Linked DNA regions of Homo sapiens. The protein of the gene in region 1 purifies or fractionates together with the protein of each later gene. This does not show direct contact. Each region holds a gene or a part of one and is shown in the gene's direction. Other genes may lie near its edges. The genes, in order: SETDB2, LYG2, DSG4 and DUSP14.

Region 1 (5,192 bases):
AATTTATAATCTAGTAATAACACTTTCTAAGTACTGAGATGATTAGAATTGGGGGATACAGACAGGGATGCATTAAGATTTTAATTCCCAAAGAATTTCTTGACAGTCTTTATAGCTGTGGCTTAATAAAGCACCTAGAAGTAGAACAGAGTCAAAGGGGATGACACTTGTTGACTCCATTAGTCTAAAGACTCCTTATGATATCAGCTTTGAGGCTTTTCAAAACGAATCTAGTACATATAGCCTATGATGATTGACACTTGATGAAAGAGGCCTAACTGCTAAATACTTTTGCCTGACCTGGAAAGTAAAGACATCTTCCTTGTTTTTTTAAGGAATTTGTTTCCTCGGAGTCTGTCACTCCAGAAGATAATGATGGATTTAAACCACCCCGAGAGCATCTGAACTCTAAAACCAAGGGAGCACAAAGTAGGCTTTGTTTCTTCTGTGAATGCCTACCTCTTCTGCCTGTTTCTCTGTCTCTTGCTCAATACCTGTAGCTCATTTTCTTAGATTCCATAATAAACATGCTGCATTTGTCAGAAAGGTTACAACTTGTCTACATAAGAGATCAGCAAAATATCGTGTGTGGGCCAAATCTGGCCCTCTACCTGTTCAGTATGGCATGTGAGCTAAGAATGATATTTATGTTTTTAAATAGTTGAAAAAAATCAGAAGGTGATAATATTTTGACACTTGAAAATTATATGAAATTACAATTTTAGTGTCCAGAAATAAAGTTTTGGCCAGGTGCAGTAGCTCACGCCCGTAATCTTAGCACTTTGGGAAGCCAAGGCAGGAGGGCTGCTTGAGGCTATGAGTCTGGGCAATGTAGCAAGATCTTGTCTCAACAACAACAAAATAGCCAGGTGTGGTGGTGCACACCTGAGGTCTTAGCTACTCAGGGGGCTGAGGTGGGAGGATTGTTGAGGTCAGGAGTTTGAGGTTACAGTGAACTATGATTGTGCCACGGTACTGCAGCCTGGGCGATAGAACAAGACCCTGTCTCAAAAAAAAAAATAAAATGTAAGTTTTATTGGAATACAGCCAATTTACATTATATATTGTCTGCTTCAACATTACAGCAAGAGTTGAATAATCACAACAGAGACCACCACATGGCCAGCAAAGCCTGAAATATTTGCTATTTTGCCTTCTGCAGGAGAACTTTGCTGACCTCTGGTCTAATTGCCAGTAGTGACTTGATGCATGACAAGAGGGGTGGGCTGGAAAACTCTTGAGTCTTTGTGGTGCACAGGTGTTGTCCGTGGCTTTGGAACCATTGTGCAAAGCAGCCACTTTCAAACTCTTTGTAGACGCCTTTAAAAATAAACACACATCACTTTCCTGCAATTGCCTAGCCAATACTGCCGCAGAGCATACTCAGCTTGACTCTGGCAAAAGGCTAAAATATTGCCACCCTGAGTCCTTGTGTTTCAGAGTTACTAGTCCTTGCCATAGTTAATATTACAACTGGACAAACATTGTTTTTGGTACTTTTGCATTTCACTGTGTCCTTCACAAGGAGACATTGCTGAGAGATATCCGTTTGTGAAGAATTGGTGAGCCACTGCTGTCTCTTCCCCCCTGCAACCGCAGCTCTCCACCTAATATTAAAGGATGGAGATTGGAGGAGACATGGCAGTTCCTTGATAGAAAAGGTCTATCAAAAAAGGGGATTTTGTGTATTATATTTATTTTATCATGCATGTGAGCCACAGTGCATACCGTTGCTTTTGGTTCTTTTGCCCTTTTCATTGACTGCTACAATATATATAGCGGGTACTCCAAAAGTCAAAAGCTACATACTTTTTGTATAAAAAAATCCAAAGTTGTATTATGGCTTACACGTAACCCATGATTAAAATATAAGTACATATAGGAACAGCAGCCAGCAACAACAGTGATGATTAAATCAAGAGCCTCAATTTTAGACAAGTATAATTTCTTTGCGCCATTGAATTAGGTGGTCCAAATAGCTTTGTGGCTCTTTTAAAGTAAGTAATTTATACTTACTCCATCTGACATGCATTCATATCTTTTCTTTTTTTTTTAAAGAGAGACAGCGACTCATTCTGTCACCCAAGCTGGAGTGCAGTGGTGGGATCATAGCTCACTGTACCTTCCAATTCCTGGGCTCAAACAGTCCTCCCACCTCAGTCTCCTGAGCAAACAGGACTACAGGCACACACCCCCTTGTTGGCTAATTTCTTTTTTTTAAAATTTTTTGTAGAGATGGGGTCTCACTTTGTTGCCCAGGCTGGTCTTGAATTCCTGGCCTCAAGCATCCTCCTGCCTTGGCCTCCCAAAGTGCTGGGATTACAGGCATGAGCCACCATGCCCAGCCATATTCATACTCTTGAATACTCTCAAAAAATTATTTTCCTTATTGGATAAGAAAAACGATTAAGCAGTGCATCTGCTTTTAAAGGATTATTGTTTACAAAGGTGTAATTATTGAATGGTCATCTAGTAAAACACCAAACACTAATATGTGCAAAACCCCTAGCAATACAGTTGTCACTGCTGGGACTTGTGGAAGGTGTCTCTGTCAGGGTTAGGCCTTTTATTGGCAGCATAAAGGCCTAGAGTGCCTCCAAAACACCCACTCTGTTACATTTGTTTAGAATATACTTAAGTGCAGATTCCAGAATTAAAGAGAAGAAAGTCAGTTTATTATGAGTAGAGATTAAATATAATAATGAAGAAGCAAGATGTAGATTCATAAAAAGGCATTGTTACGTAGTAGAAAGAAGGCAGACTTTGGGATTCAAACATTTCTAGGTTTGTTACCCCAGTTCTCGTTATTGTGGGTCAGATGAATTCCTTAATCCCTCAGAGAAAGTTTCCTTTATACAATTAAAATAATACTACCTGCCTAACACATTGTAAGGATCGATAATTAAAGCACCTAGCATCTAATTAGTGTTGTTAATTTCAGCACTATTGCTCAGCAAGTATATTTCCTGATGTTTCCTTCCAAAATGTCTATTAGAGGACTCAAGTTCAAACCATGTTGATGAGTTTGAAGATAATCTGCTGATTGAATCAGATGTGATAGATATAACTAAATATAGAGAAGAAACTCCACCAAGGAGCAGATGTAACCAGGCGACCACATTGGATAATCAGAATATTAAAAAGGCAATTGAGGTTCAAATTCAGAAACCCCAAGAGGGACGATCTACAGCATGTCAAAGACAGCAGGTATTTTGTGATGAAGAGTTGCTAAGTGAAACCAAGAATACTTCATCTGATTCTCTAACAAAGTTCAATAAAGGGAATGTGTTTTTATTGGATGCCACAAAAGAAGGAAATGTCGGCCGCTTCCTTAATGTGAGTATAAGGGCTGAGATTCCTATTTCTGAACAACTGTTTTTTTCTATGCTACTTAACAAAATTATGAGGAAAATAAACAGACTCTAAAGTCAGACCATCTGGTTAGAATTCCAGTCCTCCACTTGTATACAGTTGGATGTTTTACTTGACCTCTGATACCTCATTTTCTACCTCTGTAATACAGGGATAAATGATAACTGTCTCAGGATGTTATGAGAATCTAATGAATTAACATTAAGTGCTTAGAACAGTGCCTAGCACATAGTAAACATTTGCTTTTAAAAAACTGTAAGAAATGGTGTATAAGAAAAGTATTTAAATATATCAGATTTAAATAAGCTCACTTACCTGAGTTGAAAAAAATGTATGGCTAGGAAGTTATCAGTGAAGTTAAATGGTGGCAGATATGTCCAAAGAATACTGCAGGGATTTAATGGTGTATTAATATGGAAAGATTGCCACAATATACTGGTTTTTTGGTTTTTATTTTTTGTTTTTTTTGAGACAGAGTCTCACTTTGTCACCAGTGGCACAATCTCAGCTCACTGCAACCTCCGCTTCTGGGGTTCAAGCAATTCTCATGCCTCGGCCTCCTGAGTAGCTGAGATTACAGGCGTTAATGAATCACATGATGAATGTGTGGAGATGGCGGCTAGTGGGCAACAGAGCAATACTGGAATAGTGCTAATATGAGGAAATGGTATCATCTATTTAGAAGCCTCGGAACGACGATACATAATGGCTATCTTCAGCAAAGAAATTTGTTGCTTACAATATCTCCTCTCCAAAAGGCTTGTTTGTTACAGTGATGTAAAAATTAGGTTCTGTACATCTTCATATTAAACTTACTTTGTGAAAACTTTTTGTTTAAAAAAAAAAAAAAAAGCCATACCTTGAGAAGTACTGTGCTCCTGTTCCCATGCCCCGACTCCACCTTCTCTCTGTAGGTCATCATATTTATTCTTTTTTTTTTTTTTTTTTTGAGACCGAGTCTTGCTCTGTCACCAGGCTGGAGTGCAGTGGTGTGATCTCGGCCCACTGCGATCTCCGCCTCCTAGGTTCAAGCGATTCTCCTCATCAGCCTCCTGAGTAGCTGAGATTACAGGTGTGCACCACCATGCCTGGCTAATTTTTGCATTTTTAGTAGAGACACAATTTCACCATGTTGGTCAGGCTGGTCTTGAACTCCTGACCTCAAGTGATCTGCCTGCCTCGGCCTCCCAAAGTGCTGGGATTACAGGTGTGAGCCACCGCACCTGGCCTTATTTCTCCCGCCCCCCCCCCCTTTTTTTTTTACATAAAACATAGCATATTATATTCACTGTTCTATACTTTGTTTTTCAAATTAACAGTATATTGGGCCAGGCGTGATGTGACTCATGCCTGTAATCCCAGCACTTTGGGAAGCCAAGGCAGGCAGATCACTTGAGGTCAGGAGTTTGAGACCAGCCTGGCCAACACGGCAAAACCCCGTCACTACTAAAAATACAAAAAAAATTAGCCGTGTGTCATGGCACATGCCTATAATCCCAGCTACTTGGGAGGCTGAGGCATGAGAATCACTTGAACCCAGGAGGCGGAGGTTGCAGTGAGCCAGGATCATGCCACTGCACTCCAGCCTGGGCGACAGAGTGAGACTCCGTCTCAAAAAAAAAAAAAAAAAAAAAAATCTTGTGGCAATTCCATATTAATACCCAGAGCTTCTCAAATTGTTTTTATTTGTATGCTTTTGTTTATAGCTGCATAGAATTCTATTGTGTACCAAAGTTTATTTAACCAATCTGCTTTAGGCAAATATTTGGGTTATTTCCAAACCTTTAGCACTAAAAACAATGCTCAATGAATAATTACAC
Region 2 (5,613 bases), on another chromosome or scaffold:
AGTCACTCAATGAAGCCTCACCTACATCCACGCCTGTACCACGGCTGCTATGGGGACATCATGACCATGAAGACCTCTGGGGCCACTTGTGATGCAAACAGTGTGATGAACTGCGGTAAGTGAAAAGCAGAGCAAATGACTGGCTTCCCCCTTTCATCGTTTTCAGATTCTTTCTTAGGAAGTCACTTAATTTTGAAAAGGTATAATCATCATTATGACAATAGTATCAAAATTAAAAATGAGCAAAAACCACAATCCTGACCAATCTAACAACCAGCTTCTTTTCATTTTCCACCCCCATTCTTTCCAAACTTTGTCCAGCTGTGTTTATTTCCATGTATTGAAACTACTGCTTGAATAAATATTAGACTCTGGCTTTGTTTTTTGGGTGGTGCTGCTGTGTTTGCTTCATGTTACACATGACCATTTGAAGCAATACTGTTCCAAAGTCGTCTTCATCACGTTATCCTGGTTTTAGAGTGTCGGAGCTGGCAGCAACCACAAGGTCACATCAGACCCCAACCCCTCAAATTTACAAATCAGAGCCCAAAGACTCAGCAAGGAGGGGAATACTTCCCAATAGAACAGAACCAACTAGTGGCGGAGCCAGGCTAAAACATGCATTGGCTAACTCCTAGTACAACAGGCTTCCCAGTGCACTAGTGTGGCAGAATTTTTTTTGTGTGTATGACAGAGTCTTGCTTTGTCACCCAGGCTGGAGTGCGATGGCATGATCTCGGCTCACTACAATCTCCACCTCCCAGGTTCAAGCGATTCTCCTGCCTCAGTCTCCTGAGTAGCTGGGGTTACAGGTGCCTGCCACCAAGTCCAGCTAATTTTTGTATTTTTAGTAGAGATGGGGTTTCACCATGTTGGCCAGGCTAGTCTTGAGCTCCTGACCTCAAGTGATCTGTCCACCTCGGCCTCCCAAAGTGCTGGGATTACAGGCATGAGCAATTTGAAGGAGAAACAGAGCAGAAGCGACACCTGTTGGGGGTTGTGGATCTGTTTGTTTCTGCAGTCAGAGATCAAAAGGATGTCTTAGAATGGTTGTCCCAAGTCATTAGCAGTGATCAGAGGCTGTGGCTAACTTAGCAAATTTTTAAAAATGGTTTTCTTCTGAAGTAGAAGAAACAGTTTCTTTTCTTTTTTTAACTTTAAATTCTTTTTTTTTTTTTTTTTAATTAGAGATGGGCTCTCACTATGATGCCCAGGCTGGTTTCGAACTCCTCCTGGGTTCAAGCAATCCTCCTGTTTCAGCCTCCTGTGTAGCAGGAACTGACTTCAGGCACACACTACCATGCCCGGAAAAACAGTTTCTTTTCTATTGACGTAGGGATCCGTGGTTCTGAAATGTTTGCTGAGATGGATTTGAGGGCCATAAAACCTTACCAGACTCTGATCAAAGAAGTCGGGCAGAGACATTGCGTGGACCCTGCTGTCATCGCAGCCATCATCTCCAGGGAAAGCCATGGCGGATCTGTCCTGCAAGACGGCTGGGACCACAGGGGACTTAAATTTGGCTTGATGCAGGTATTTAGCTAGAAACTTTCTATCAGCCCCACTGCATCCCTCCTCACAGAAGCTCAACCTGAACTAGAAATCCATTTGCAGTGCTTCCAAGCCCCAAAATACCCTGGCATCTGGCTACAGGTACTCCAGCATAATTTTTTTTTTTTTTTTGAGATGGAGTTTCATTCTTGTTACCCAGGCTGGAGTGCAATGGCGTGATCTCGGCTCACTGCAACCTCCACTCCCGGGTTCAAGTGATTCTCCTCCCTCAGCCTCCTGAGTAGCTGGGATTACAGGCACACGCCACCATGCCCAGCTAATTTTTTGTATTTTTAGTAGAGACGGGATTTCACCTTGTTGGCCAGGCTGGTCTTGAACTCCTGACCTCAGGTGATCCACCCACCTCAGTCTCCCAAAGTGCTGGGATTACAAGCTTGAGCCACTGTGCCCGGCCACTCCAGCATAATTTGATCTGGGATTTCTGTAACACATCTTTTTATTTTATTCAAGGCTTATTCATTATTAGATATATTTTAAAAAGTATTTTAGGAGTTTCATAACTACCATTCTGCAATAAATAATATGTAATACACTAAAACTGAGAAAATCTTATAAATAGCATTATTGTTACAGGTGTCCTCTTGGGGTTCATGAAGTAGTAAATTTCATCCATGTGGATCAAAACATGGTATAACTGTGCCCTACTTGAAACAACTTGTTCCTTTGGGTAAACTGGAGGAAGGGGATCCAAATTATCTGGATATTTGCTTCCAGGCTCGATTTTAAATTGTCTGTAGAAATACAGACTTCTGGCCTTCCCAGTTAGAAACAAATTTTTATCTGAATTAGCTGGATAATTATTTATTACTATAAATGTGTAGACTTTGGGTGTTATTTGTTTCAAAACAACTTAAATTTTTTTTTTGTATATTAGAATGTTTAGCTAAAACTATACCATGTCCATTTCTCCCAAACCTTACTTTGTTTCTCTGACTCTCATCTATATGAAAGAAAGAACAATAGAATTGACTCTTTGGGGATAAAGGCCGGTATCTATGACTTGAATACCAGGAGAGGAAATTAGGAATGGCAGAAAAAATGTGTTACCTCATCCAGATGCTGACTTTATTATCTGAATTTTCTAGCTTGATAAACAAACGTACCACCCTGTCGGTGCCTGGGATAGCAAAGAGCACCTTTCACAGGCTACTGGGATTCTAACAGAGAGAATTAAGGCAATCCAGAAAAAATTCCCCACGTGGAGTGTTGCTCAGCACCTCAAAGGTAGGCTGTATTCTGAGTACTTTGTTTAAATGAGCAATGAATGAGACCACTGAAGGCCAGTGTGACCCGAGACTCCCTGGGAGCATTTCCACGGGGTCAGCAGTGGCCCTGGGAGGAGCTGTCTAGAGGCTGCATTTGCATTCCCTGAACCACTGAGTTACTTTGAGAGGTCCTCCATCCTCAACCTCCATTTCCTCTTCTGCAGAATGTTGGGGTTCTTATTCATTGCTTACTGAGCTATTGAGTGATACCTTGAAACATAGTGAGACCCTGTCTCTACAAAAAAAAAAAAAAAAAAAAAAAAAGCTGGGCATGGTGACACACAGTCCCAGCTACTCAGGAGGCTAAGCCAGGAGGATTGCTTGTGCCTGGGAGGTTAAGGCTGCAGTGAGCATTGATTACATCACTGCACTCCAGCCTGGGAGACAGAGTGAGACCCCATCTCTCAAAAAAAAATTTATCTATCTATCTATCTATCTATCTATCTATCTATCTATCTATCTATCTGTTTGCCTACCTCTCATAGGTTTTTTCCTGTTATAAGAAACTGTCAACAACTTTCCAAATTGTCTGAACAATGTTACTCTGTGAGTATTTTCGGGACTTCAGGTGCTATATATCCAAGTGGAAATCTCTGCTTGGCTGACCACAGGCCCCCTCAAGTTCAGCATCTCCCAGATGGAATTAACTCACTAACTTCCCACTATAAATTTGCTCTTTCTTCTGCATTTTACATGTCTTGGAGGCACCATAATATAGCCAGTCATCCCAGCCTGAAAACCAGATTGCTTTCTTAGGCTCTCTGGTTCCTTCTCTCTTCACACCCAACCACATCAATTCCTATTAGGTTTGCCTCCTATTGGCCAATGTTATGTCCTCCACACTCTAACGGCCTTAATCAGAACAGTTTCTAGTCTCTACTTCAAGGTCCTTGAAGGCAGGGATCAGGACCAGGCATCTTCCTCTCTGGATATCAGAGCAGAGCACAATTATGTTAAACACATACATAACTACTAGAGATAAAATTCTAGGGTAAAATAGCACACACATGCATATGTACACATACCCAAAGAAATAAGTGTGTCTTGGGTACCTTGCAGTCAGTGTGGCACCTCTCCTGGCACATAGTAGGTGCTTGAAAACATTTCCTGAATGAATAAATGAGTGAGTGAATAGATGAGTGAATTATTGAATAAATGAGAGAATGTTACAAGCATTTTCAGCAGAGGATGTACTGGGAGTCTAGTTCTGCCAGGCCTGGATTACATAAAAAAGCAAATCTGATTTTTGCAACAAGAAAAACCAAAGACTTTGGAAAAAGAGAAAGAAAGCAATCTGGAATTTTCCCAGTGATTCTTGGGATAGCACGTCCTTTCAGAAAGGGAGGGAGAGGGAGGAGGATTTGGGACTGCCTGCTTTGGAAGATTTGCCTGGAAAGCTAACATCTTGGCAATGCTCATTGCTTATTTCTGTTGAAAGTTAATATTTGAGCCTAATTCTCTGTGTTTCATTTCAGGTGGTCTCTCAGCTTTTAAGTCAGGAATTGAAGCGATTGCCACCCCATCGGACATAGACAATGACTTCGTCAATGATATCATTGCTCGAGCTAAGTTCTATAAAAGACAAAGCTTCTAGGCAAAGCTCTGTGGGTGGGCCAGGTTGGCAGAGTGCTCAGATGGCCGCCTTTGAGAGTTTTACGTGAATGTGTTGTATACAACACTGGCAAAGAAATGATTAAAATCATGAAAGAAAATTCATTTCCCAATTTTCTGAATGAAAATAAGCATTGAAAAAAGGAAAGAAAAATAAAAGAAATCCATCCAGTTCACAATATGGTTCCTAGGAAACGGACATAGACATATATATAATTACTTTGCAGTAAATGTGAATATCATGGCAAATGGTCCCTAGGTATTCCAGCCAGGCTTCATTTTAGCCTGTGATTCCAATGCCCACCTACTCCCTGTCTACCAGAATTGCTAACAAGTTAAGTAAGCCTTACCCGAGCCTTTGTCTTTTTTCCAGTATCTGCCCAGAGCCCTCAGGCTTTGCTTATGAGAAGTTCCTGACTCGTAAGCCAGCCAATCCATGGGACAATGGAAGAAATAGGGATGGAATTCTAGCTTCATGGGAAACTGAGAGCCAACTGAGGTGAAGCTGTCATTCAAGTTAGATACACCAAGTCCTTCAAACCCACAGCAACCTCCTGTGTTTTCTTTTGTCTGTGAAGATCCAGGGACTGGCTTTTCTTATTTTCAGCAGTTGCTGCCACACGCTTTCTTTCACGGGGTCCATCCCTCACAAAACATGGCTGAAGATAAGCATGTAGGACCCAAATCAATTATGGTTCTTTGGTTGCAAGCAAAAGTAACCACTTATAGAAATTTTAAGCATTAAAAAGAAATTACTGGAAGGCTAACAGAACAAACTAAGAAGGTCAAGGAGATGAAGAGACACCAGGCAACTCTGGGGTCTGGGTAGCAGGAATGGGTTAACCATACTTTACAGCATCCATAGTAAGCAAATGAATTAGCACCCTCACCAGTATCCTCATATATGTACTCCAAACACCTGTTTCTGATTATGTCTTCATTCTGCGTCACTTTCATAGTGCCAGGAGAGGTTCGGAGCTATTTATCTTGGGTCACATACAAACCTACCCTTTGGCTATTTTGCTACCTTGGTCTTGCTCACACTACCTACAATGGAGAAGAGACAACTCTCTGGAAGGAAACTGTGTGCTGTTTGTGGCCTTTACTTCCATAGTCAGGAGAGGACACAAGTGATAACACGTTGGAGTGTAAAGTGGACGTGTGA
Region 3 (5,192 bases), on another chromosome or scaffold:
CTCCATCAGTCCTTATCTCTGTTAATGAACATTCTTATGGGTCTCCGTTTACTTTCTGTGTTGTTGATGAGCCACCAGGAATAGCTGACATGTGGGATGTCAGATCAACAAATGGTAAGTGAAACGTAAGCTTGTTTTTTGGACTTTAAGTCCAAAAGCAAAACAATTACCAAAAAATGTGGCAAGTCACTTAATAAAACATTCTACTTCTGTTTCCACAGTTCTTGCCATATTAACATTAAATGAAAAAAATATTTCATGTACACAGAGGATATTTGATAAAATTTTGAACTGAAATGAAATGAGTCAAAATGTTTCATTAATATTTAATTTACAAATAGTAGTGGATAAATACCAGTTTACCCATCATTTTGAGTAGGTAAAACGTTGAACCAATATTTATTCAGTTTAAAATAAACAGAACCCTTAACAAACTCATAAATTAAGAATGTCACAATTCCCTATTCTGAATAAATTCAGACAAATCACATAAATGTCTCTGAAACTCATATATCCCATAGATACATTTAAACATTTACTACTCACTTAGGAGCACATAAAATCAATTAAATTGTTTTTTACAGTAACTATGAGTTCAGACTTATTTTTAAGGGTAAAAATTTAAATCCAAATTGCTCAGTATTAGAGGAATGATTAAACAGAGTACATATTATTAAGATGTGTTAATATACAGCCATTAAAATTAGAATTATGCAAAGTATGTAGATACAAAAGAATGCATAAACCAAAGAAAGTAAAGTGAAAAACAGATCACGAAGTTGTATATGTATGTATCTTGACTATAACTACATACAATTGAATGGCTGACATCGATAAAAATTAAGAATAAATTTCAGATAACATAACATTTTATCTACCTTGCGTTCTTTTTCCTAAAACGTTAAGTGCATAATAAAAAAGAAAATGCTATGAGAGGATCTCATATGGGCTAAGATAGCTCCCCAATCTCATATTCATTTGGGGCTACAGGGAAAATTTCATGGGCTAGTCGGTGGCCATCAGACTACAGAGCCCAGGGTGAGAGGAAATACTTCCCACCTCTTTAAGGTCACCAAGCCCCTCTATTTACAGAATGGAGAAACCCTAAAATAAGGTGGGGAAAATACCACCAATAAAGTAAGAAATTAGGCAATTTGTTTTTACCATCAAACCTTTAGCTCTTTTCAACAAAACCACTTTAATATTTTTTAAAGTTAATCATGTTAAAGCAATTCCATTAATATCAAGTCAACTCTGAATTCACCATCTCCTATAAAGCTCAATAGCCCATTCATAAACAATAATAATTGCTAACCACTTTTTTCCTCATTCGGATCCTAGATATTATGATTACACATGTAAGAAAAAATGTTCTGCATGGAGGTATAATATTATAGCTATTACAGGTTTGCCAATAAAAAATATAACCACACTGGAGATGATATTCCTAGAGACCTGTTTCAATGCTTGCTGGTGTTTTAGAACAGAATGAATTTCACTTAATGTGCTGTGGCATTGCCTTATCTCATTTTTACCTTGTGCACAGGTTAGATTTTGGTGGACATAGCTGGCTTGCCATCTAGCTAACTGAGGATAATAAACCATCATAATAAAAAATATTGTGTGCTATGGATCAATCAGTTACTATTCATGGTTTAGCTGTAAATTTAATCATCTCAACACTCCTTGTATTAATAAATAAATTCCAATGAATATTTTAGACAATATGTTTTATGAAAATTCATAGGCAATGATAGCACAAAGAATTAGGAGAATGTGAACAATTTTAAATGAAAGGGCAACAATTTTGAGTAAGATACATATAAACAGTCTTAAGGAGGGTATTGTGTAAACTGTAATCCTAAATAGAAGACTTCTAATATTTTCTTTCAGCTCAATATTATTTATTCATTGGGCAAATATTTATTGAATGTATATTATATGCCAATTACTGTTGCTCTGGAAAGATGCAGCAAGGTCCTTGCCTGCATTATAGAAGTAGCAATCCAGCAGTAAGCAATACTTATTTAAAAATTAGTTATAAATGTTAAAAAAAAAAAGAAAGAAAGAAAAGTAAAAAAGGCCAGGCAGAATGGCTCATGCTTGTAATCCAAGCACTTTAAGAGGCCAAGGCAGGTGGATTGCTGGAGCCCAGGAGTTCAAGACCACCCTGGGCAATATGGCAAAACCCTGTCTCTACTAAATGTATATATATTAGCCAGGCATGGTGCCACACACCTGTAGTCCCAGCTTCTCAGGAGACTGAGGTGGGAGAATCACTTAAACCTAGGAATCCAAGGCTGCAGTGAGTCATGTTCGTGCCACTGCACTCCAGCCTGGGCAATAGGAATGAGACTCTGTCTCAAAAATAACAAGAATAATAATAATAATAATAAATTAAATAAATGTTAAAAAAAAGTACAAGGTGCTTTATGACTAAGAAAGCATGAAAAATCTAGTGTTTTAAGTCAATATTTGGTATTAGGGAGAGTTAACCACCCCCCTAGCCCACCAAGGAATTTCCATTTATTTTCTGTTTCCTCTCTTCCATTTCAGCTACCTCGGCAATCCTTACGGCTAAGCAGGTTTTATCTCCAGGATTTTATGAAATCCCAATCCTGGTGAAGGACAGCTATAACAGAGCATGTGAATTGGCACAAATGGTGCAGTTATATGCCTGTGATTGCGATGACAACCACATGTGCCTGGACTCTGGTGCCGCGGGCATCTACACAGAGGACATAACTGGTGACACGTATGGGCCTGTCACTGAAGACCAAGCTGGAGTTTCAAATGTTGGTCTTGGACCAGCAGGGATTGGCATGATGGTTCTGGGCATCCTGCTACTGATTTGTAAGTACTCAATTAAATCCTTCTTTTCAATAGTTCTTCAAAATAGGGCTGTTACGAGGCTCGCTGGGATGGTTAGGTTCATGGAGCCATTTCTTTTTGGTATCTCTAGCAATTTTTGAGTGCCTTAGAAATAAACAATGGGACTGACAAATATATGCGCTTAATCCACAATGATAACTAAGAAAGCCTAGGGTGAGTGACAGTCCTAAAAATGGGAAACACATGCAAATCACTACATATACTACCTAAAAGCACAAAACAAATCCCATCATGGAAATTTCCTTAAAATGCTTTAAGAGTAGAGAGGCAGAAGCAATTAAGTCCATGTGGAAAAGTTAGGACAATCTTTTGGAAAAGTGGATTTTGAGGTGAGCCTGAAAAGCTGAGGATTTTTTTTTTCTTTTTTTCTTTTTCTTTTTTTTGAGATGGAATCTTGCTCTATTGCCCAGGCTGGAGTGCAGTGGCGCAACCTCGGCTCACTGCAACTTCTGCCTCCCAGGTTCAAATGATTCTCCTGCCTCAGCCTCCCGAGTAGCTGGGACTACAGGCGCCCACCACCACGACTGGCTAATTTTTGTACTTTTAGTAGAGACGGGGTTTCACCATGATAGCCAGGATGGTCTTGAACTCCTGACCTCGTGGTCCACCTGCCTTGGGCTCCCAAAGTGCTGGGATTACAGGCATGAGCCACTGCACCCTGCTGAGGATTTCTTTTAAAGGAGGATGATGTCTAAGGAAATTTGAAAGGTAATCAAACACACACACACAAAAAAAAACCACACACACAAACAAAAGGGAGCAAGATATGGAAGAGCATAGCACACCTAGGAAGCAGAGAGGCAAAAGGGAGTCTGGGAGCCAGCATGGAGGCATGTTCATGACACACCAGGCATTCTGGGCTTCAGTACAATGGCACAGAAGAGTTGATGAGGGCTGATGAGCGCAGGTGACCCTGCGGTAGGAAGCAAGTAGAAGAGACTAGAACAGAGAATTAGCCTCTGGGCTCTGGGTGAGTGCCTAAACTAAGACTGGTCACAGAAGTGGAAAGATCACCAAACAAAAATTTCCCAAAAAGGGCCCTCCTTTCCCCATAGAGTTTTTTTAAACATATAGATCCTCAGAGGAAGAATACTTCATACATTTTAGGTTGCCCTTGCAATATTTAGGTTTCATGGGGATCAAAAGCTGGGTTCTAAAATTAAAGAGAAGTAAATTTGTCAAACTGTATTGTTGCTGTTTTCAGGGATGAGCACTAATTAAAATGTAATCATTTCAAGGCATAAAAAATAACAGCTGACTTTTGGTGAGGATTTCTTTTTTGAAATAATCTGTGAGGTTTCAAAGCTATGCAAAGATCATGAGTGATTCTCACAATGATATTAGACACATTTTCCCAGAATATAACTCTACAGCAATTGAGTAGTGGTTTCGGGTAAGCTTTGAGTTAGCGGTTCTCAACCCTAGTTGTACATAAGAATTAGTTAAAGGTCTTCCAAAATTACTCATACTAGAGTCATACTCAAGATGAGACCAAGCATCAGCATGTTCAAGCCCTTTGGTGAGACTAATGTGCAGTTCAGGGCTAAAAACCCAGTGCCAGCTGCATTTCCAGAACGTTAGCACTAAGAATTTCAAGACTTTTTCCTGACCCAGACAAAGAAAGCATGAGAGTTGTTCAACTGATGGATTGTAGAATAGGAGAGGAATACCCCTATGGACACTTGTTTTCAATGGAGAAGCCCATGGTCTATTTTAGGAGAGAGGGGGCAGTGTGATGGTAGTGGGAGGGATCTGAGCCCAAACCTATGTTCCCAAAGGGCCTCAAATTGACACTTTTGATGTTAGCTCCAAATGAGATTACACATACAGTAATTGTATTGGGTATGTGCTAAAAACACTTCATTTCATTTATTAGATAGTGCCTTTGTTAGAGTTCAGGCCTGCAATGGTACATGATCCAGCTCACATTTAAATTCACAGAAATATAGAATAGGCAGAACCATGGCCTAGGGGCTACCAATTTTAGTTTTAGTCCTTTTCCAGAAAATGCTATGGAAATGTATAACTTGACCTTTCACTGTTCATAGTGCAGATGGCAAAATTGCCAAATTAATTGTTGTAATAAGACTAAAGCTGATTTTGCAACTTTGATAGTCTCTTCTTTTGTATCTGTTTTTAATTTTTAATTTTTGTGGGTACATAATAGGTGTACATATTTATGGGGTACATTAGCTGCTTTGATACAGGCATGCAATGTGAAATAATCACATCCTGGAGAATGGGGCATCCATCCCCTCAAGCATTTATCCTTCTATTCTTTATCTTTAATTAACCCACTT
Region 4 (5,192 bases), on another chromosome or scaffold:
CTTTCTTTTGAACCTCTTCCTCAAAAGTAACTGCCGAGTGCATCTTGATCGGTTTGTGTATATCTTTTTAGACTTTTCTAAGCATTTTTATAAATGTCCGTTTGCACAAAGTGGTTTTTTAACCGAAATTAATTATTTTAAAGTTGACTTGTCCTGTTTATAAAGATTTGGCTTCTGTCAAGAACAAGTAATGTGTTTAAGTACAACTGTTGGTAAAGTTTTAATAATCCTGATAGACGGTGTTACTTCCCAGGGCAAGGGGCAAATTACCCCTTTTAAACAACTTCAAAGTAGTAGAATCATTACGATCCTAGGTTTTACTCTTAGGTGCTGAATAAAACTTTCCTATTTAAAAAAAAAATCTAGGACTACTAGCCTATTGTCTTGTCTTTGCTTATAAAGAAACGTCAAAGGGAGTGGAAGACAGGGAGAGTTGCTAAAGCAACCAAGGCCTGGGTATAAACTTACAGAGCTAACATTTAAGATGGCTTTATTATTTATGAAAGCTTCACTTCACCTGGGTGAAGACAAAGGAAAGTGTTAATGTGGGCACCCTTCAAACCGGTAATTTCAGGAAATGGATGGGTTAAAACAAAATTCATGTCAGGATTCTGTGGATTTATATATTATACATTTACCGAGGACTTTTACCATGCTAAAGGTGCTGTGCCTGAATACAGAGGAAGAAGGCAAGTAAGGTCGGTCTCTGACCTTATGAAGCTGACAGGCAAATAGTGACATTCAGAGAGAGTTGGCCAGAATTGTTGTCATGGTTCTGAATTCCCAGAAATCAACATTAGATTTATTGAATTGTGAATTATGTAAAAAAGTGTCTAAAACAAATGGATAATTTGATGGATTATTTTAACGAAAACATAAGTGTAACTGTCTTGCAGGTCAAGAATCTGACTCCACACTCTCTCCCTCCCCCAGAGGTCCTAGCCAGAAACTACCCTGACTTTTATGGAAATCATTTCCTTCTTTTCTATAGTTTTTATCCCCTAAATATAAATCCCTAATTGACATAGTTTTATTTTGCTTGTTTTTAACCTCAGTGCAAACTAAAAGTAGATACTCTTGTGAATCCTTCCTTCTGGCCGGCATCGTGTGTGTGTGTGTGTATGTGTATGTATGTGTGTGTGTATGTATGTATATACACACGCACATATATAATTTTTTAAATTTCTGCAGCATGCTATTTTAAAAGATTTATCCATATCGTTGCCTATGCCTGTAGTTTTTGTGTTTTAATTTTTTTAGAGACAAGGTCTCACTATATTGCCCAGGCTGGTCTTGAACTCCTGGGCTCAAGGGATCCTCCTGCCTGGGCCTCCCAAAGTGCTGGGATTACAGGTGTGAGCCACCACACCCAGCCCAGTTAGTACATTTTTGTCTTATGAACATACCACAAATTACCTTTCCACTGTTGATGGACATCTGGGTTGTTTCTGGTCTGGGGCAATTATGAACAGCCCTGAGTCAGGTGTGCATACCTTCAGCTTTACTAGTTGATACCTGGTTTCCAAAGTGGTTGTACCAATTTACATTCCTTCAGTGGTGTCAGCCTTGAGTTTGTAAGTCACTGTATTTGCTGTTTAACCACAATTATGCTTGAATATTTTCTGAATGAATGAATAAAGGTCCCTGGGTAGTCCGATCCCTGGCCTGTCATGTGCTAGCGTATTTTTATTTAGTTATATGGTTTGGACTAACCACCCAAATACCAGAAATGGTTTTCCCACTGTGTTTGGTTGACAAATATCTAATGGAATCCTTTCATCAATCTTTTTTTTTTTTTTTTGGAACAGATGAGTAGTTACAGGAAATTTTAAATATGCAAAATGAAGTACTAAAAATAAGTGGCTAGTACCTAGATGTTTTTTAAGGCTCTTGAATGAATCCTGCCTCTGGTGAATGCTTCCATTGTGCCCAGCCCTAAATGTGTAGGACAGTGTAGTGTGCAGGAACCCAGGCCTATCCTTGTTAAAGTACCCTCTGAGGATGAGACTCCTTAAGAGGCACTGTGCACAGACCCTAACTCATACTTCTTGGCAATTCCAAAGTAACCACAGACTCTGTGCTACAGGAATCAATGACTCTTTTAAACTTTTTTTTTTTTTTTTTGAGACAGAGTCTCACTCTGTCGCCCAGGCTGGAGTGCAGTGGCGCGATCTCGGCTCACTGCAAGCTCCGCCTCCCAGGTTCATGCCATTCTCCTGCCTCAGCCTCCCTAGTAGCTGGGACCACAGGTGCCCGTCACCATGCCCGGCTAATTTTTTGTATTTTTAGTAGAGACGGGGTTTCACCATGTTAGTCAGAATGGTCTTAATCTCCTGACCTCGTGATCCGCCCGCCTCGGCCTCCCAAAATGCTGGGATTACAGGCGTGAGCCACCGCACCCAGCCTTTAAATCTTTTAAATGTATTTTTCTCCAAATTTTCCTTTGCCTGAGAAAGTAGAAGTAGCTTAGAGCAGAGTTTTTGTCGTTTTTGTTCATTTTCTTTGTAAGAGATGGAGTCTAGCAGTGTGGCTCAGGCTGGCCTTGAACTGCTGGGCTCAAGGGATCCTCCCACCTCAGCCTCCTAAAAGCTGGGACTGCAGCATGTGCCACATCCAGCTTGAATTCCTGCTTTGTGAACAGACAGTTACCAGGCTCACTTTGATTGCCCGTGTTTAGTTTTGCCAGCTGGATTTGAAGTGTGTGTGTGAGAGAGAGTGAGAGAATGTGAGAAAGAGAAGGAGCAGGAGGGAGGGTGTGGGGAGAGGTGGGCAGTTCACCTGAGGGCAGCCGTTAAATTCAGGTGTTCATTGAGTACTTACCATGTGCCTAGTATTATGTGCTGTGTTTCTGCCCTTAGAGCAGAATGTTACGCAATTCTGTAGGTTTACAAAATACCTCAGGGGAATCCTTTTTAGCTGGAGGGATGATGGAAGAACACTAGCACAAAGACTGAGATTTGTAGATCCTTTTTATTTCTTCTCTAAAGCATCTTGGAAAATAGCTAAATCACTCTATTTTCAGTCTTTATTTACATAAGTCACAAAGACTTTTTTGCTCATTATAGTAAAGATTTTTTTTCAGATTCTCTAAAATAATGATAATTTTAGAAACCACATGCGGATAAATTAGAAGTTTTCAGGAAAAGACACCCAAAGGAGGAGGAGTAAGAAGTCGTTAGTATGAGAACCTGTTGATCTGAGTGATGGGGGAGGAGCCCTGTCGTGTTCTTTGTCACCCCTTCGGCCTTCCAGCGGGCAGCTTTCACAAAGGAGCTCCATTTTCCACCTGTTGCAGGGCAGGGGCAGCCTCAGCCTGGGCGAGGGAGGAGGCCTAGGGCTGAGATCACAGCCATGCCCTTTCATGTGCAGCCCACCCAGCTCACCTGGGCACGTCCCATTCTGTTCTTGCACCAACCTAGAGCAACCAGAGGTCCGGTTGGGTCAGCTTTTCACACCCCATGCCATGTTGAAACCTCAGTGGACGAGAAGGTTCTTTTGAAGTTCATATGCAACTGCTGGGTTTACTTCTGTCTTTGTCCCAGAACAGTTTCAGCATCAATGACCTAGGGCAAGTTTTTTTGTTTGTTTGTTTGTTTGTTTTGACTCCTATGTCTTTGAGTGTGTGGGTACATATGAGAAAACTCCCTAACTAGAGCATGCTGCTTCTGTTGACTAGTAAACATTATGTGGCAGAGAGCGCCTTCAAAGCACCAGCCTTCCCTGCCTGGGAAAGTGACCAGTAGGTGAACTTGCTTTAAGTTTTGTTTTTTTTGTTTTTTTGTTTTTTTTTTGAGACGGAGTCTTGCTCCATCACCAGGCTGGAGTGCAGTGGCGCGATCTCGGCTCACTGCAACCTCCGCTTCCCAGGTTCAAGCAATTCTCCTGCCTCAGCCTCCCGAGTAGCTGGGATTACAGGCGCATGCCACCACGCCCAGCTAATTTTTCTATTTTTAGTAGAGACAGGGTTTCACCATGTTGGTCAGGCTGGTCTCGATCTCATGACCTCGTGATCCACCTGCCTCGGACCCCCAAAGTGCTGGGATTACAGGCATGAGCCACCGCGCCCAGCCTGCTTTAAGTTTTAAGGAAGCACTTGTAAAAATAAAATCTGGAAGTACTGTCAACATACAAATTACATACAAATTTGGAGATTTATAATGAAGAATTTTGCCAATTTAGCTAAAATCTAAATCTTAGATTTAACTAAATCTTTTAAATCTTTGTGTTTCATTATAAAACACAAAACATTTATAATGAAGACACACTTCATGTCATCATTATAAATCTTTGGTGTTATCCTGGCTCCTATATAAAGAGCACTGGCAGGCTCAGGCCAGAAGTGGAGAGGGGGCTTGGACCGACAACTATGTGTTGTTAATTTTCTTCTATTAAAAATATTTTTTACTTTTAGAAATTGAAATCATATAGAAAATTATGCTGGGCACAGTGGCTCACGCCTATAATCCCAGCACTTTGGGAGGCTGAGGCAGGTGGATCACTTGAGGTCAAAAGTTCAATCGAGACTAGCCTGACCAACATGGTGAAACCCCATCTCTTATAAAAATGTAAAAATTAGCCGGGTGTTAGGCCGGGCACGGTAGCTCATGCCTGTAATCCCAGCACTTTGGGAGGCTGAGGCGGGTGGATCATGAGGTCCGGAGTTCGAAACCAGCCTGACCAACATAGTGAAACCCCGTCTCTACTGAAAATACAAAAATTAGCCGGGAGTGGTCGTGGGCCCCTGTAATCCCAGCTACTCCAGAGGCTGAGACAGAGAATTGCTTGAACCTGGGAGGCGGAGGTTCAAGTGAGCCAAGATCATACCACTGCAATCCAGCTTGAGTGAAAGAGCGAGATTCCATCTCAAACAAACAAAAAATTAGCCGGGTGTGGTGGCATGCACCTGTAATCTCAGCTACTTGGGAGACTGAGGCAGGAGAATTGCTTGAACCCAGGACGAGGCAGTTGCAGTGAGCAGAGATTGAGCCACTGCACTCCAGCCTGGGCAACAGAGTAAGACTCTGTCTCAAAAAAAAAAAAAAAAAAAGAAAAGAAAATTATTGAAAGCAAATTAACCAGCATCATAACTCACCATTCAAAAATCATTGCTCATACTTTATCTTTTATAATGCTTAGAAATTAAGTATTATCAAGTCAGAGCTTCCTTGGGCCATTTCTCTTCCCTTCCCACT

The links.
Region 2: the proteins of SETDB2 (region 1) and LYG2 purify together in Homo sapiens (affinity purification with mass spectrometry; 2 studies listed by BioGRID and IntAct, with this or other methods). This does not show direct contact.
Region 3: the proteins of SETDB2 (region 1) and DSG4 purify together in Homo sapiens (affinity purification with mass spectrometry; 2 studies listed by BioGRID and IntAct, with this or other methods). This does not show direct contact.
Region 4: the proteins of SETDB2 (region 1) and DUSP14 purify together in Homo sapiens (affinity purification with mass spectrometry; 2 studies listed by BioGRID and IntAct, with this or other methods). This does not show direct contact.

Annotation. Positions count from the first base shown.
Region 1 is NC_000013.11:49,485,295-49,490,486, forward strand, and holds part of SETDB2 (histone-lysine N-methyltransferase SETDB2), read left to right. Parts: intron 1-335; coding exon 336-429; coding exon of another isoform or gene 430-500; exon of another isoform or gene 501-551; intron 552-2,995; coding exon 2,996-3,336; intron 3,337-5,192. Other genes in the region: SETDB2-PHF11 protein, read left to right, coding at 336-429. UniProt on the Homo sapiens protein: Histone methyltransferase involved in left-right axis specification in early development and mitosis. Specifically trimethylates 'Lys-9' of histone H3 (H3K9me3).
Region 2 is NC_000002.12:99,241,182-99,246,794, reverse strand, and holds the end of LYG2 (lysozyme g-like protein 2 precursor), read left to right. Parts: coding exon 1-115; intron 116-1,336; coding exon 1,337-1,533; intron 1,534-2,657; coding exon 2,658-2,796; intron 2,797-4,312; coding exon 4,313-4,431; 3' UTR 4,432-4,549; downstream 4,550-5,613. UniProt on the Homo sapiens protein: May act as a potent antibacterial protein that may play a role in the innate immunity.
Region 3 is NC_000018.10:31,403,521-31,408,712, forward strand, and holds part of DSG4 (desmoglein-4 isoform 2 preproprotein), read left to right. Parts: coding exon 1-114; intron 115-2,556; coding exon 2,557-2,853; intron 2,854-5,192.
Region 4 is NC_000017.11:37,491,888-37,497,079, forward strand, and holds part of DUSP14 (dual specificity protein phosphatase 14), read left to right. Parts: intron 1-5,192. UniProt on the Homo sapiens protein: Involved in the inactivation of MAP kinases. Dephosphorylates ERK, JNK and p38 MAP-kinases. Plays a negative role in TCR signaling by dephosphorylating MAP3K7 adapter TAB1 leading to its inactivation.